Regions from separate parts of the Homo sapiens genome. Here all the other regions are linked to region 1. Evidence: fine-mapped expression QTL. A gene starts in region 1. Each other region holds a variant in brackets. All regions are shown on one strand. Distances are between the middles of the regions. Region 1 holds the start of SH2D4A (SH2 domain containing 4A). Region 2 overlaps CSGALNACT1 (chondroitin sulfate N-acetylgalactosaminyltransferase 1). Region 3 overlaps SH2D4A (SH2 domain containing 4A).

Region 1 (5,572 bases):
GTCTAATTAGCAACTCAGAGTGTGGATTTTAGAGAAAGAACTCCATAAAGGTAACTCTTGGAAAAACATTAAATATTACAGTAATGTAATTGATTCAAAGATGAATGTAAAGACCAATAATTTATCTTGGTGTTTATGAAGATGAAGAAATAAAGGCCCATACAGAACCATACACAAATGAAAATAGTTCAAAATCAAATCTAACTGCTCACAGAGAGCTGAAAACACAGCAGACCCTAAATATATTTTTAATGATTGATGAACTGATTAAGATTTATTTTGAGATTTGATCAGTTTTTAGTAAAGTTTAAATGTTTTTGTATTTTTCTTTCATTTGTACGTTACATTCACTGTGGTACAAGTGTATACCTGCTCTAACAGTTAAAAAGTGGTTGAGGTTTCTGATGCTGATCATAAAATATGACAGGAAAAATACTCTATTTTATAAAGAAAACATATGAAGGCAATTTTCATTGTCTGTAGAACTGAAATAAGGATTAATCTTTATCTCAGAAAAAGTGCAAAGTGGCTTATCCTGTCTTTCTGGCAACAATAGGGCTGGCAGTGTTGCACAACTCCAGGGGGCGCCTTACACATAGTGATCTCTGTGCTTGTCCCCTGCCCACCCACAGTTGTACAAGGGCCATGCTATGCCATTTTACTTGACAGCCCTGGGCAGCAGGGCTCCTAAGCAACAGTCCAAAAGGAAGGCCAAGGAACACATCCATTAAAATGTAGGCTATTTGTTTCATGGTATTCATTACCACGAATAAATGACAAATTAAAAATATTAGTAACCAATAAATAGATGTTTAGCTTTCTCTTTAAGTTCTGGCAGTGAACGCTGCAGCAGAGCATTCCTGAACACATGTTGGTGCTACCATGTTCCATGTCTGTGACTCGTCAGTGGCCAGCCCCTGTCAGCAGTCTTCCCCACATTCGTCCCTATAACACATCCTAGATCATGGAGGGGGGAAATGTTTTCCTCTGAGAGTACTGGCCCAAAGGGAGGGAAAAAGTAACTGAAGGCCCCACAAGTAATAGGCCACCTGATTTTTTTTTAGAGCATTATAAAACATTCTTGGCCAGGCGCAGTGGCTCACGCATGTAACCCAGCACTTTGGGGGGCCAAGGTAGGCAGATCACCTGAGGTAAGGAGTTTGAGACCAGCCTGGCCAACATGGTCAAACTTAGTCTCTACTAAAAAACAAACAAACAAAAAAAAAAAACAAAAACAAAATACAAAGTTAGCCAGTTGTGGTGACAGGTGCCTATAATCCTAGCTACTTGGGAGGCTGAGGCAGGAGAATCACTTGAACTCAGGAGGCCGAGGTTGCAGTGAACCAAGATTGCATCACTGCACTCCAAGCCTGGGCAAAAAGAGTGAAACTCCATCTCAAAAAAAAAAAAAAAAAAAAAAATTCGAATTGTCTACTTTTGAAATTAAGGGAAAAACATCTACCTTTTCTCTTCCAGACCATGCCAATTAAAAGAGGAAATTCCAGGAGTCAGCAGAAAGGAAACAAAAAGAGAAGGTGATAGAGGAGAGGGGAGACCAAGTGAAGAGGATGGAGAAGAAACTATAAAAATAAGAGAAGAAGAAGAGTTCATGGCAAATATAGGAAAGAGCCACGAGACAAGAAGGATGGAAATGGGCAGATGAGAGAAAAGGGAAGAGAGTCTGGGTTCTGAGTTGTTTGCATTATTTGTGTACAGCGTGCGTTCCTTTGGGCTGTCAATATTATTTCAAGATAGAAGCACCAAGGTGTTTCCTTACCTAATCTCTGAAGTGGCAGACCATCATCACTTCTGCCGGGTTCTATTGGTCAAGCATACCAACCTTTACAAAGTGGCAGGGAGCTATGCAAGGATGTGAATACCAGGAGGATAGGATCCCTGGGAATGACTTGGAAGGTAGGTGGCATGGTGGGCAGAACCCACAGCCTAGGGTGAGATGGCAGGAATGTGGAATTCCAGTACCTTAATGTGATATGAACTGATCTGAGTGAATGTGTTTGAACACTCACCACATGCCAAGAGCTCTTCTAATCTCTTTGCATGTAGCATCTCATTTAACCCTCTTGACAACTTACCGAGGCAGACACTCTTTATCTAGAGGAGGAAAGTGAGGTACAGAGGTTAGTAGCACAGTGATAAAGCTGTTATAAGGAAGGACTTGCCAGGACCTGGAGAGAGACTGGGTGTGAGGAAGGTAGGCTGTCACAGTGTCCTGTGGGATTTTTCCTAACTGATAAACCACCCTGTATGGTTCAACTGATGCATCCATGCAGGGCTAGGATTCATTCTGACCTCGTCATAGCAGCTTTCCAGGGGCCAATCCCACTCCAGCCTAAAGCACCCCATATGCTATCATTTAAACTGCAGTAGGAACTAAGCCTTACACCAGAAATTCCTCCCTGATGGGATTCCTGGAATTGTTCCTAAATAGCTGGGTCTTATTTCCTGACAATGCCGCCTGCCCCGAGGCTTGATGTAACTCTGCACAGCTTCTGCAGTTTGGAGAGGCAGGGAAATGCCATTTTGTGTTTGAATCCAGCAGGTCAGGCTCCTAAAGAGGTCAGGTAGTCCGTGGAGAGGACTACTGGTGTTTACTGTTTATTACATCTCTCCCAATACACAAAATCTGGGGTTCACCAAAGCAGGCGGTTTTCTTCCACATGCTCCTCTAGGATGGAAAATGCCCTCCAGTGGAAATGCCTTTCCACTGTGCTTCTGCTCAATTTTCCTCCAAGATTTCCTCTAACTGTGGACTGCCAGCTCCTCCCTGACGTCTTCAGGCACCAAGCCAACCTGTTCTTGTTGCAATCCTCAAGACTCCTTTCAGCATCTTAACTTTTCCCCCAGTTTTCTTTCATTTTCTCCACCTGTCTGTGTTGACTGCGGTCTCCTTCCTTCCAGCCTTTTCCTTCCTTCATCTTGTCCTACAAAGCCACACGTGTACCGACAAGTGCCAAAGAGTTTGATCATTTACTTAATGTCAACAAAAGAAAAAAAAAAAAAGCTCCAGAGTCGCCTTGGCCTGCAGCACCCAAGCAGAGTGAACAAGTGGGGCCTGCGCACCCTCCTACCCTACACCTAGCAAGGAACCCCGAGCTCTGAAACGTGGAAAGGCCCAGATCTGCAGATTTAATCTAAGTCCTGCAGTCCCCAAGAGATCACAGACTGCAGATCCCTGTCTCATGAACTAAGAGAGGAGAGGACAAGCCTACCCCGGACTACCGCAGCTCGGGGACAGCGCGCGGGCCAGGCGGCCCGAGATGCGCAGGCCACGCAGCCTCGCCGACGAGTGGCCCTGGAGAGCCTCCAGGCGCCCGGGTGGGGCCGCGATTGCGCCCCGCCAGTCACCCCGGCATGTGGGCGCGGCGGGGCGGCGCGGGCGGGACGGCTACAAGAGCTGTTTTGCGTCCGGGCCGGAGTATTTGCTCAGCCCGCCTGCGCCGCTTGGGACGCCTCTGCCTTTCCCTCCCTCCCTTCCCCGACGGCTTCTGGCGGCCAAGTGGATGTGGCGGGTGATCGAGCCACCCTGCCCAGGGGCGCCCAGCACTGGTAGGTGCTGGGGGTGGGGCGAGGCTTTGGGGAGAGTGTGCGTGGGGTGGGAGTAGGGGGAAGGGAATTTCCTCGGAGGTTGCATGGGTGCATGGGAGGCGCAGGGGCCAGAGCGGGCGGGCGGAAGCCTCACCCCCGCCTCCACCCCTTCGCGGCGCCCGGGGCGGGCTCAGGTGCGGGGTTGGGCGGCGAGAGCGGCCGCGGCGGGTGTCCGGTGTCCGGTGTCCGGTGTCCGGTGTCTGGAGCCGCTGGCTAGGTGAGCGGCGGTCCCCGGGGCCTGGGGGCTTGCAGGGGGTGGCGGGGGAACTTCGAGGGAGAGGGTCTGCCGGGGCTGAGGACCTTCGGGGAAGTTCTGGAATCCGGCAGGGACACGCGGCGCGTGCTTCCACCCGCGGGGAGTGCAGGCCCCGGGAGGGTCCGGGCTGGCCTAGAGTTTCTAGACTCCTAGCAGGAGCACGTCCTCGACTTGCGCATGGAAATCTTCCAGGAGGGAAGTCCCGGGAAACGGTGGCAGCTGGCGCAGCACCCCCGCAGCACGTTCCCCGCGCACCGGCACCCAGGGGCGCCCCCACGTGGGGTCTGGGAGCGCGCGGAGGCCAGTGCAGCGCCGCCTCCCTCGGGCTGCAGCGGCGGGGCTGGCCCAGACCCAGACCGGGTGCCCAGTGCGCTCAGCCAAGCGGCGCCCCTGCCCGCTCCTGGACTCGGGGGTCACGCGGGCACCGGAAGGAGCTACAGTTTGTAGGTTTTCTGAGTTGTCTCTCCCTTCCCAGGGAGCTTAGAGAAGCAGCAAGCGTGGCACCTCCCCCTTTCAAACAGATGCTCCTCATCGCTCCAAAGGCTTTCGTTTGATTGCTGGTTTAATAGAAACAACGACTTGGGTACGATTATTTTAAAATAGTGAATAAATAAGTGGAAAGCATACAGGGGCATAGATTTGGCATATGAGTGGAATTCTCTATGTATACTAAATCTGTGTGTACAGTAATCTCAAATTTCTGAAGAATAGTATATATTTACAAACTGCTGTCATCTCTGGTAATTTGTTTCATCCTCAAAAACAGCCCTTTTGCTGGTAGATGAATAAGATAAAGTTTCAATAAGAAAACAAAGTTGGACCACAGAGCTGGCTGTTTTAAAAGAATTAGAATTCAAACTGTATTGTTAATGTTATAGTTACACTGTCCATACCACAATACTTTTATTTATTTTTTATTTTATTAGGTCGGTGCAAAAGTAATTGCGGTTTTTACGTAAAAAAAACCGCAGTTACTTTTTTTTTGGCCATGTAAAACACAATAACTTTTGCACCGACCTAATGTTTTTAATTTTTGAGACAGGGTCTCCTTCTGTCACCCAGGCTGTGGTGCAGTGGTGCGATCTCGGCTCACTGTAGCCTCAAACTCTCCAACTCAAGAGATCCCCCCACCTCAACCTCCCAAGTAGGTGGGACTATAGGTGCGGGCCACCACGCCTGGCTAATTTTTATACTTTATGTAGAGACGGAGTTTTGCCATGTTGCCCAAGCAGGTCTTGAACTCCTGAGCTCCAGCAATCCACCCATGTCCACCTCCCAAAGTGTTGGGATTACATGTAGAACCACTGTGCCCGCCTACTATTTTTATGATTTAGCCTGTATCTAAGGCCTTTTAAAATTGTATTTTGTTTAGGTCTCAGAGTTATTCAAAAGACAGTTGTATTGTAGAACAGTGTGAAGGTGTGAGAATCAGGCCAAATCTATGGTATCATGGAAAACAACGGATTCTCTGACCTTTTAGCAATTGGTGTTCAGAATAAATAGCAGGTGTGGGCTTGTTGCTTATCATTTCTCTCTTTTAAGAAAGGGGCTGTGTTAGCTGAGCTATTCCTTTGTTGGATCTTGAATAACCGGAGATTTGCTGCCCTTGATATAGTATGGGAAAGTCCTCTGAGTTTGAATCAGTATCAGCAATGATTACTTCCTTGTCAGGGAGTGAAAGTAGGAAAGCCCTAGTTAGTTAATTTCCTG
Region 2 (5,572 bases), 200 kb after region 1:
GTAAAGTTAAAACAGAGGAACACTGTTTCCAGAAACCAGAGTCAACAATGGTGTGTTGTGTAGAAGTAGCTGACTATTACAGCACACGGGCCAAGTTAACTGAGAAGTGATGAAGCACAGCAGCTCTGCTTCCCTTCCAGTCATTGTCTTTGCAGCCAACGGCAGCACAACCCACCAAGCTGCTTAAGCCAGAGGCAGGAAAACCATCCCTAGCCCTTCCTTCTCCATCATCTTCTGCCATTGACTCATCACCATGTCAACATGCTTCCTGTTCCAAAAGTATCTCAAATCAGTTCTTGCATCTCTACCTCCACCACCACCCTACTCAAGGCTCCATCATCTCCTACCAAGACCATGCACTAGACACTGAATATTAGAGGTGGGTGGTAGCACCCAGGACATAGGAGGATAGCGACAATGTGGGAGAAAAGAGGACAGCAAAGGTCTTAAGATCAAAGGAAAATACCGCAAAATGTAACGGAAGACACACGAAAGCCACTATAATGATTGAAAGACCCTAACGCTCCCAATTCCTACACCCAGTACATTCTGTTCATAGAATTTTCTCTCTCTCACTCTCTCTCTCTCTCTCTCTCTATATATATATATATATATATATATATTTTGTGCCATCTGCCTGCTGTTAAAGAAAATGAGTATATACAACCAACACCTACAACTGCTAGAATCCACAATAATCTATCTCTTATACACACTTAATTAGTTTAGGGCTGAGGCACAGTTATGCCATTGCTTAATGAAAGAAAAATGTTCTGAGAGATGCATCATCAGGCAATTTTGTTGTTGTGTGAAGATCATGGAGTGTATTTTCACAAAGCTAGATGGTAGACCTACCGCACACCTGGGCCATATGGTATAGCCTATTGCTTCTAGGCTAACAAACCTGTACCACATGTGGCTATAATAAATACTGCAGTCAACTGTAACACTATGGTATTTGTGTATCTAAACACATCTAGACAAAGAAAGGGTACAGTAAAAATATAGTATTATAATTATAGAACCACCCACATGTATTCGGTCCACTGACAAAATGTTACACATCACATAACTATACTTTCAAAGAAGCCAAAATGACCTGAAAATGAGCATAATAGCTCATCATCTCCCCAAACCACATCCACCCAGAAGTTTCAGAGCAGGGTTTTCAGGTGTCAGAGATCTTTCTGGAATGCAGGTTTCTTTTTTCCATTGAGACTTTCATTAGCATCTATCTATGGGCCAAGTGCTTTATCTTCTGCTACGTTCCTGACAGCAACTAAAGCAGATCAGTATTACTGTGTATGCACTAAGAGGTGCTTGAGCCAAATCCCAGCGAGAGGACAGGGGTCCCACTGGGGAGTCAACAATTAAATGCCAAGAGTTTGGAGTTGGCTGTGGAAGGATCTGAAGCCTTCTTCCCTGACCCCCTCCAGCCCTGACACCGAGCTACTTAGCACAGGTACTGGCTCGGGTTTCACACAGACAGCAATCTGTGTGGACAGCTGCCTTGGTGGCCCTAGCAGTTTTGCTGCTTTTCCTCCTCTTTCCTCAATACTCAAGACCAGCTGTCTCCAAACATTAATTAAACAAAAATAGCACATTTCAGGCATCATATGACTTTTGAACAGAGACTATATATATATATATATATATATATATATATATATACATGTATCTATTTAAAAATTATATACAGGCCAGGCACAGTGGCTCTCGCCTGTAATCCTAGTGCTTAGGGAGGCTGAGGTGGGCAGATCCCTTGAGGTTAGGAGTTTGAGACCAGACTGGCCAACATGGTGAAACCCCGTCTCTACCAAAAAAAAAAAAATACAGAAGAGAATTAGCCTGGCATGGTGGCTCATGCCTGTAGTCCCAGCTGCTTGGGAGGCTGAGGAAGGAAAATCACTTGAACCTGGGAGGTGGAGGTTGCAGTGAGCTGAGATCACTCCACTGTACTCCAGCCTGGGGGACAGAGTGAAACTCCGTCTCCAAAAGAAAATAAAAATAAAATATTAAATACAAGCTTTATAATGTAGTATTATGTATTTACAATATATCTAAAATAATAAAGCGTAAAATATTTTTAAATAATATTGTCTCACCCTGATGGACCATCCTGGAGCCCACAGATACCTAGCTCCAGGTTTCCAGTAGTTGATCTTCTGACTGCATTACAAGTGTCCTTGGGGCAGGGCTCTTGCCACAACTGATTCCAGGTCCCCAGTGCCAGGATCATGCCTTGATCCCCCATTCCTTCGGGAACCCAGCCTCAGAGTGCCTTTCCTGCCTCTGGACCCCACTGTCTCTATCTCAGGTCCCTAGCACCTGCTGTCAGGCCATGTCCTTTCCTGCCTCTGGACCCCACTATCTCTATCTCAGGTCCTCAGCACCTGCTGTCAGGCCATGTGACCAAACTGCCGGGACTCCACCCACAACCCACTTCCCTTCCTTCCTCACCCAAAAGACTTAGGCTCAGCCTTCAAGATGCTCCTTGAGTCTTCCCTGTGAGGTCCCCCTATCTGCAGACTCAGAGGGCGTGTTCTCCAGGGACCAGCACTGACCCAGCCCAGGGGAATGGGCTTGCAAATGACTTCACAGTCAGGAATTCCCTAGTTGGGAGGGATCCTCCATCCCCTCAACTCCTCGTTGGTCTTTTAAAAGAATTCTCAATAGAAAAGCAACTGAGAATAAACACATAAGTGTAAATCAAAAAAATAAATAACTAAGTAAAAGAATTCTGATTCAATTTCCCTGCCTTGAAGCAGAAAAAGGGAAATGTGGCAAAAAGAAGCTGGCACCTGCTAATCAGAAAATGAAAGCACACTGATCACAACCACAAGCACCAAAAGGTCAAGAAACAGACTCAAGTCCTATTTTTTTTTTATTTTGATTTTTAATTTGCTGGCAAAC[T/C]TTTAGAGAGGAGGCTTGATGGAGAGGGGCTTCCTGTCTATGCCAGACCGTCTAGTCCCATTCCTTACAACTGCCACCCTTGCTTCAGGAAGACCTAAGGCAGGTAGTTGGCATGGGTGGTGGTCATGGACCCCAGAAGGTGCAATGAGGGCAGGACACTGGCATAAGAAGATGCTACTCAAGCCAGGTGTACAGAATAAAGACGCTTCTTCCAGCTGTAAGACATCTCAAGCACACATGTGGGGCTGAGTCAGCTGCCAAACCCCGCAAGGAGACCTGACTCCCGGAGTCTTTTGGGGCTCTTGGTGCCGGTTCTCACCCCAAACTGAGAACCGCATGAAACCAGCCTTCCAACACCCTCCCCTCGTTCATAATTACAAGCACTTAGTGAGCATTTACGTTGGGGCCAGACATCATACAAAGCACTTCACAAATATTATCTCATTTAATCCTCAAAACGATCCTATGAGCTACATCTTATTAACCCCATTAAAGAAACAGAAACTGAAGCTTAAAGCAATGAAGTAACTTGACCCAGATGTTCAGCTGGCAAGTAGCAGAGCCCAGCTTCAAACCCAGCTCCGTCTGATTCTTACCCACTACGCTATACTGTTCAACCCGCTTCATAATCTCAAACTGCTTGCTGAGACCTGCTCCTCATTCTACACCCAGCGTGTCCAATTTTTCTTGTTTCTGAACTCATAAATATTATTTATGAGCTTGCCTGGCCCCTCAAACGTGGCATGAATCACTGCTTCTCTAGTTAAAATGTTTTGTACCCCCATGTAGCCGTGATCTGCATTTACACATCTCTCAACAGCTAGGCAAACTCACACTATCCTGACAAATAATCCCCATCCCGGTGTGAGCCTTGCTCTGTCCCTGCAACTAGGGCCAGGCAGAATATCTTCGCAACATTCAAGTGTTTCTAAGTGATTCCACCAGACCCTCCAGCCGTGTGGCCTCCACAGACCAGGCTCTGGGTGGGCTGGGGGAATGTCACCCATTACTCCTTGGGCCTGGCCCTTAGGCTTCCATGATGGGAGCCCCCAGGAGGGGGTGAGATGCTGGAAGTGGCTGCTTTCTGGGGATCGAGGTGAACACAGCGGCCACGGCAGTCTCAGTGGTTCAAGTGCTGCCTTTGCTCCTGGAGTTTCCATTTCCAGCTGGAATCTGCAGCCACATTTATTTCCTGTTCTCCATTCCCTACTTTGGCCATGACCCACTGCCCACCTGGAGAGGTGGTTGGTTTTTAGTTGAGATGCCTCAAACCTGATATGTGGGTGTAAGACGCCAGGAGTTTATACTCACATATCAAGTTCGAAGCATCTCAACTAAAAAGCATCACGGCAAGTAGAATTTTTAAGCAACTAAGAAATGTTCTTTGAAAGAAGAAAAAGAGGGCCAGGCATGGTGACTCACATCTGTAATCCCAGCACTTTGGGAGGCCGAGGTGGGAAGATCACCTGAGTTTGGGAGTTCGAGATCAGCAGCCTGACCAACATGGAGAAAAACCATCTCTACTAAAAATACAAAATTAGCTGGGTGTGGTGGCACATGCCTGTAATCCCAGTTGCTCGGGAGGCTGAGGCAGGAGAATCGCTTGAATCTGGGAGGCAGAGGTTGCCGTGAGCCGAGATTGCACCACTGTACTCCAGCATAGTCAACAAGAGTGAAACTCCATCTCAAAAAAAAGAAAAGAAGAAAAAGAGAATATCTCTAGAAGGGTTAAAGTGATCACTGTGGAAGGCTCTCCTGCAAAACACTGTGTATTAGTCTGTTTTCATACTGCTGATAAAGACGTGCCCGAGAGTGGGTCATTTATAAAGAAAAAGAGGCTTAATGGACTCACAGTTCCACATGGCTGGGGAGGCCTCACAATCATGGCAGAAGGGGAACAGTTCGTCTTACAAGGCAGCACTCAAGAGAGAATGAGAGCCAAGCCAAAGGGGTTTCCCCTGACAAAAACATCAGATCTCCTGAGACTTATTCACTATCAGGAGAACATTATAGGGGAAACCACACCCATGATTCAATTATCTCCCACCAGGTCCCTCCCACAACATGTGGGAATTATAGGAGCTACAATTCAAGATGAGATTTGGGTGGAGACACAGCCAAACCATATCACACTCAGTTCTCTCTTCTTTCCTCTAGAGCACTGCAAAAGTAGATGCCCATGTAATGGCCATGTGTCAAACTAACATTCTTCTGTGCAGGCAGAAACCAGCCCTGGCACTGGGGAGACTCCAAGACTCAGGAAAGTAAGCACCTGGAGAGATCAGGGTCTGAGGTAGCATCACACAGCTTCTAGAGAAATGCATGCTGTTAATTAACAAAGAGGGGACTAATTTAAAAATGAGCAACACTCCCCAGCCAAGTACTTTCTGATACAGGAGTTAAGAAGCAATCACTTAGGCAAATAGTAAGGGTATGGGAGTCCTCAGTAAGGCTTTCTTTTAAATGAAAAGCAGCCCCAAATCATTTTCTAACTAAGAGCAGCCTGAAAAGTGGAGCCCCAGACATACATAAGCAAGCTGGGAGTTTGCATGGATGATTAACAGCAGGAACTAAGGACTAGAAGTATTCAAGATGGCAGCTCCATCTTCCCTTCTCTTTATCAGCAACCTGTACTGTAAGGACCAGACAAAATGGCACC
Region 3 (5,516 bases), 82 kb after region 1:
ATAAAAAATTTGGAACATGAGTCAGACCTCATGAGTTTGGACTAACTGGGGAAAAGGCTGGTCTGGAGTAAGAGTGTGAATTCCTGAGGCATCTAAGCTATGTCTATATATAACTTCATATGTGTATATAAAGACACACATATAGTTTTATTCCTTTAAATGCCAGTGTAGTGTCATTTAGCAATAGCTACAGGCTAAGGTACTTTATAGAACTGAGTAGAACTGAGTCTGACTTGGCTCTGTCACTAAATTACTGAGCCTCCCACACCAGGGAGTCTCAATTTCAGCACTACTGCTATCTGGGGCTGGATAATTCTCTGCAGTGTGGGGCTGTTCTGTGTCTCATAGGCTGTTTAGCAACATCCCTGACCTCTAACCCCATCCTCCATCCATGACAACCAAAGATGTCTCTCGGACACCTTTGTCCGAGTGGTTGAGAACCACTGTCCTAGACCAAGTCAAATCACTCCCCAGGCCATTGAGTCCTTGTTGGTAAACTGAGGTAGCCTAGGGAGAGTATCTTTAAATCCCCTCCCAGATCTAACATTCCCAGGATGACCATCAAGGCGTTCTGTTAGACCCTTATAAACCGTCTAACACCTGTGTGTTGCTCTAAATGGGTGTATAAGTAGAAATATATTCCTTTTTTTTTTGTTTTGTTTTTTGAGATGGAGTCTTGCTCTGTTGCCCAGGCTGGAGGGAGTGCAGTGGCATGATCTCGGCTCACTGCAAGCTCCGTTTCCTGGGTTCACACCATTCTCCTGCCTCAGCCTCCTGAGTAGCTGGGACTACAGGTGCTCGCCAAAACGCCCGGCTAATTTTTTGTATTTTTAGTAGACATGGGGTTTCACCGTATTAGTCAGGATGGTCTCGATCTCCTGACCTCGTGATCCACCCACCTCGGCCTCTCAAAGTGCTGGGATTACAGGCGTGAGCCACCACGCCTGGCCCAGAAATATATTCTTCTTTTAAGGTTGACATTTAAGCTCTCATGTATACCTCTATACATGATTTTTATACAGTTTGCCTCTATAACCTGTTCATGTCTAATTAGCAAATACCAGAAGAATATTCCGTATTCCTAAGAAGCCCAAAACAGACTTAAAATTGCTCTTATTGTGTCTTATTTAGGCGTCATTGACTCTATATCCATGCAGCTGGATTTAACAGAGGGGATTTTCTGGAATGATTTGGCTGAAATACCTGCCTTTTTTTGCTTTGCCACAGGAATTCTCACACTCAAGAAAGCAAATGAACTTCTTCTGAGCACAGGCATGCCCGGCAGTTTTCTCATCCGAGTCAGTGAAAGGATCAAAGGCTATGCCCTGTCCTATCTGTCGGAGGACGGCTGTAAACATTTCCTCATCGATGCCTCTGCAGACGCCTACAGCTTCCTGGGCGTGGACCAGCTACAGCATGCCACCTTGGCGGATTTGGTGGAATATCACAAGGTGAAGCAATGCATAAACTTAATTTGCCTTCTGAGTTACTGTCCTGTAGCAGCTCTAACAATGAATGACAATTACAAAGAAAAGGACTGAGACAAGTACTGGGGAGGGGACAGGGGTGGGGGCTTGTCTTTGATAATTCTTCCTGATAATCAGGATTGTTAATCACATTTCATTTATCTTAGAACCTAGTTCTTCCTTAAATACTCAGGGAACCCCACTGGGGCAGAGAATACGGGAAATGCTAAAACAAAAAAATAAAAGCTGTACCCACATGGATCACATATGACAGCAATCCCCAAACTTTGTGACACCAGTTTCCTGGATGACAATTTCTCCATGGACTCAGTGTTGGGGGATGGTTTCAGGATGATTTAAGCACATTACATTGATTGTGCATTTTATTATTACATTGTTATATATAATGAAATAATTATACAGTTCAACATAGTGTAGAATCAGTGGGAGCCCCGAACTTGTTTTCCTGCAACTAGACAGTCCCATCTGGAGGTGATGGGGGACTGTGACAGATCATCAGGCATTAGATTTTCCTAAGGAGCGCACAACTGAGATCCCTCCCATGCACAGTTCACAATAAGGTTTGTGTTCCTATGAAAATCTAATGCTGCTACTGATCTGACAGGAGGCAGAGCTCAGGCGATAATGTGAATGACAGGGAGCAGATGTAAATACAGATGAAGCTTCACTCCACTGCTCACCTCCTGCTATACAGCCCAGTTCTAACAGGCCACAGACTGGTACTGGTCCATGGCCCTGGGGTTGGGGACCCCTGACCTATGAGAATTCATAGGCCTTAAGTTAGAATTCAAGCCCTGAAGGGAAAGGAGTACCTGGTCACATGTAGATAAGAAAAATGCCTTTTAAGATGATCATAAACCACAAAAGCTTTGTGTAAATCATGGGTAGGCAGCTAGTGATGTCCTCTGAGGAAGTAGGAAGAGCATGTGGTCACTACTTACACTATCTGACCCCGTGCCTTCTGATTGACAGGAGGAACCCATCACTTCCCTGGGGAAGGAGCTCCTTCTCTATCCCTGTGGTCAGCAGGACCAGCTGCCTGACTACCTGGAGCTGTTTGAGTGACAGCCTCCATCAGGGTCATCCTACAGCCTCCAAGCGGGCTTTCCCCTGGACAAATGCCACTGCAACATTTATGTGTGAAGCCAAAATCACCCTGCAGCAGAGCCAATACTGATCAACTGAAAGTAAAGTATCCATGGAGTCCTCATTGACACCTCTTTTCTGCACAAATACTGGAATTCAATGTCAAGAGAAAATGACCTCTGCTCAAAAGGGAGAAGAGTCTCAATTTCAGCAAGTACCTGTCATGAAGGGTATGACCTTAATGATGTACATAAAATAAAACAAATGAAGAAATGGAAAACTTTTAGAAATTAAGGTGTACTTGAAAACGA[A/G]TATCTATCATATGACCCCTGCACTCCCTCTGTATCATCTCAGGAGGTTTCAGGGGCCTGTTGACATGAAGTTTCGAAGTTTCATGTTGGCTTTGGAATGGTAGCAAAAGCCTTTCCTGGCTGAGATGATGCTTAAAACACACCTCACTTATTGTACATGTTGGAACCAGGACATGAGAGACATAGAAAAACAGAAGTCATGAATGTAAATTGAATGAGAGGCTTAACATGCATGAAAATACAGATGGACCTGCAGGAAAGTGAGCAAACATCGCTGAGTTTGTTTTCTTGTTCGGGAGAATGGGGCCGGGGCTGGCCTGGCCTCCCCTGGATATACTCTATAGTGCACCAAAAGGATAAAGCATCTGTACATGTATTTTTTTATTTTTTATCAGAAGTGCTTAGACAAGAACAGAATAAGCAGGCTGTTTGGATGCTACTTGTGGTTGAATTGTGTTCCCCCAAAATATATGGTGAAGTCTTAACCCCCATCCCCGTGAATGGGACCTTGTTTGGAAATAGGGTCTTTGCAGATATAGTCAAGATGAGGTCACATTGGATTAGGGTGGGCCCCAAATCCAATGACTGGCATCCTTAGGAGAAGAGAGAGTTTTGGTAATAGACACAAATGCAGTGGGAAGAAGACCAGGGGACAAGAGGCAAGTTGGAGTGATGCAGCCGGAAGGGAAGGGACACCAAGGATCTCCGGCCACCAGCAGAAGCCAGCAGAGAGGCATGGGACAGGTTCCCCACAAGCCTTAGAAGGAAGCATGGCCCTGACTTCAGAATTCCAGACTCCAGAACTGGAAGAATAAATGTCTGTTGTTTTAAGCTGCTTAGTTCATGCTGAGTTCATGCTGACTTGTTACTATAGCCCCAGAAAGCTAATACAGTCGTTTATGTAATTACATAACCTGACACACAAGATCGACCCATTCACTGCTGCCCAGTCCACCATTTTCATAATGAAGTAGAAATGGGAGGTAAGAAAAACATTCCAGCCAGTTCTGTTTAGCCCTGGCACACATATTTGTCCCGTCAGGAATCTTATGCCCTCCTGGAACCCCCGCCCACCTCAGTCCAGTCCCAGTCAGGCGAACGGCCTCTGGACAGGGACTGAGGTGGCTCTGAGCCACTGGAGATCATTTTTCTTGGAGGATGGAGATTGGCTAGTACCTCTGGCCTAACTGTGTAGGTCAATACTCTTTTACATTGCCTTCTAATAAAAGCAGAATGATACAGCAGTGTTGTTACAAGCTTGTTGGTTGCGTACAGCACTCATTGACTATAAAATGTAGCCAGAGAAGGGGATGGTTGGCATGTGTGTTCTAATGAGAAAGATGATGGTGATTATTATTTTTAGAGACAGAGTCTTGTTCTGACACCCTGGCTGGCATGCAGTAGTGCGATCACAGCTCACTTCAGCCTCAAGCGATCCTCCTGCCTCAAACCCCCAAAGTGCTAGGATTATAGATGTGAGATACTATGCCAGGTAGAGATAGCTTTTAAACATAGATCATTGTTTAACTCTTTCTTGAAATGTTCCATGTGGTTTATATTGTTAAACTATTGTAAGGATCCATCTCTTGGCTTTTGTTCCTATGATTCAACAGTCATGGCATTATTGAGAAACTTCTCAACTCTTCCTACCATTTTCTGTATAATCTTGGACAGGACAGTTTGTCTCTGAGCCTCAGTTTTTGCTTCTGAACAAAAAAAAATATGATTCAACTGGGTGATCTTTGTTATTTTCATCCAATTCTGAAATTTTAAGGTTCTAGTGCTTCTCACTGGAATGAATGGAAAGTACCCACTTGTCACCACTAATAATTAGGAAGATGTAAGATTCCAGTACTGGCCAGGTGCAGTTGCTCATGCCTGCAATCCCATCAATTTGGGAGGCCAAAGTGGGTGGATCATGAGTTCAGGAGTTCAAGACCAGCCTGGCCAACATGGTGAAACCCCGTCTCTACTCAAAATACAAAAATTAGCCGGGGACGGTGGCATGCACCTGTAATCTCAGCTACTCTGGAGGCTGAAGCAGGAGAATTGCTTGAACCTGGGAGGCGAAAGTTGCAGTGAGCCGAGATCACACCACTGTACTCCAGTCTGGCTACAAAGCAAGACTACGTGCTGGGGGAAAAAAAAATCCAATACCCCCCTGTGCCTACAGTTATCTTGTAGGAAATAATTGTGGCCATATCCAGATATAACTACACAAAGCAACATCCTATTAAAGGAAGATTTAGAAAACAGGAAGTCACCCAACTGAATTCACCCAATATTACACAGGGGAGCAGATGTGGGTTCCGGACTAGTTTATCCTGTTGGTTGCTGATTGATAGAGGAATACACTGTCCAGTGTTGGATGATATGATGGCACGAATGACACTTGAAATTCTTAGGGAAGGAGAATGGTTTACAGATTTCAGAAACTGAATTCAACCGAATGGAATTCAGGAGGCCTGAATGGTCATCCGAGCAGTGCTGTGGTCTCTGTCCTGCCTACATTTACCCTGAGTTACGGTCTGAGGTGAAGATGTCCAAACTCTGACCCTGGTCTCCTCCTCCTGTTGCCTCTGCAAGCCCAGCTCCTTGACCTGCCTGCGCAAGGTTTCTGGGTCTAGGAATG

Evidence for each region. PIP is the estimated chance that this variant, and not a neighbour inherited with it, causes the effect. A credible set is the group of variants that fine-mapping cannot tell apart.
Region 2: its variant is the best candidate, but not a certain one, in a credible set for the expression of SH2D4A in whole blood (TOPMed, PIP 0.65).
Region 3: its variant is the best candidate, but not a certain one, in a credible set for the expression of SH2D4A in sun-exposed skin (GTEx, PIP 0.87).

What each region holds. Positions count from the first base shown.
Region 1 is chr8:19,310,257-19,315,828 of GRCh38, forward strand. It overlaps SH2D4A (SH2 domain containing 4A), which reads left to right and starts at 3,437. Exons shown (of 10, transcript NM_022071.4): 1 at 3,437-3,567. It overlaps LOC105379306 (a long non-coding RNA gene), which reads left to right. Exons shown (of 4, transcript XR_949550.3): 4 at 1,477-1,568.
Region 2 is chr8:19,512,841-19,518,412 of GRCh38, forward strand. The region is part of intron 2 of CSGALNACT1 (chondroitin sulfate N-acetylgalactosaminyltransferase 1); the gene reads right to left. Among named protein-coding and RNA genes, the nearest start is that of CSGALNACT1-AS1, 160 kb to the right of the region's middle. The variant T/C (reference allele first, on the strand shown) is at 2,914.
Region 3 is chr8:19,392,091-19,397,606 of GRCh38, forward strand. SH2D4A (SH2 domain containing 4A) reads left to right here. Exons shown (of 10, transcript NM_022071.4): 9 at 1,228-1,451; 10 at 2,460-4,128. The coding sequence ends at 2,552. Among named protein-coding and RNA genes, the nearest start is that of SH2D4A, 81 kb to the left of the region's middle. The variant A/G (reference allele first, on the strand shown) is at 2,885.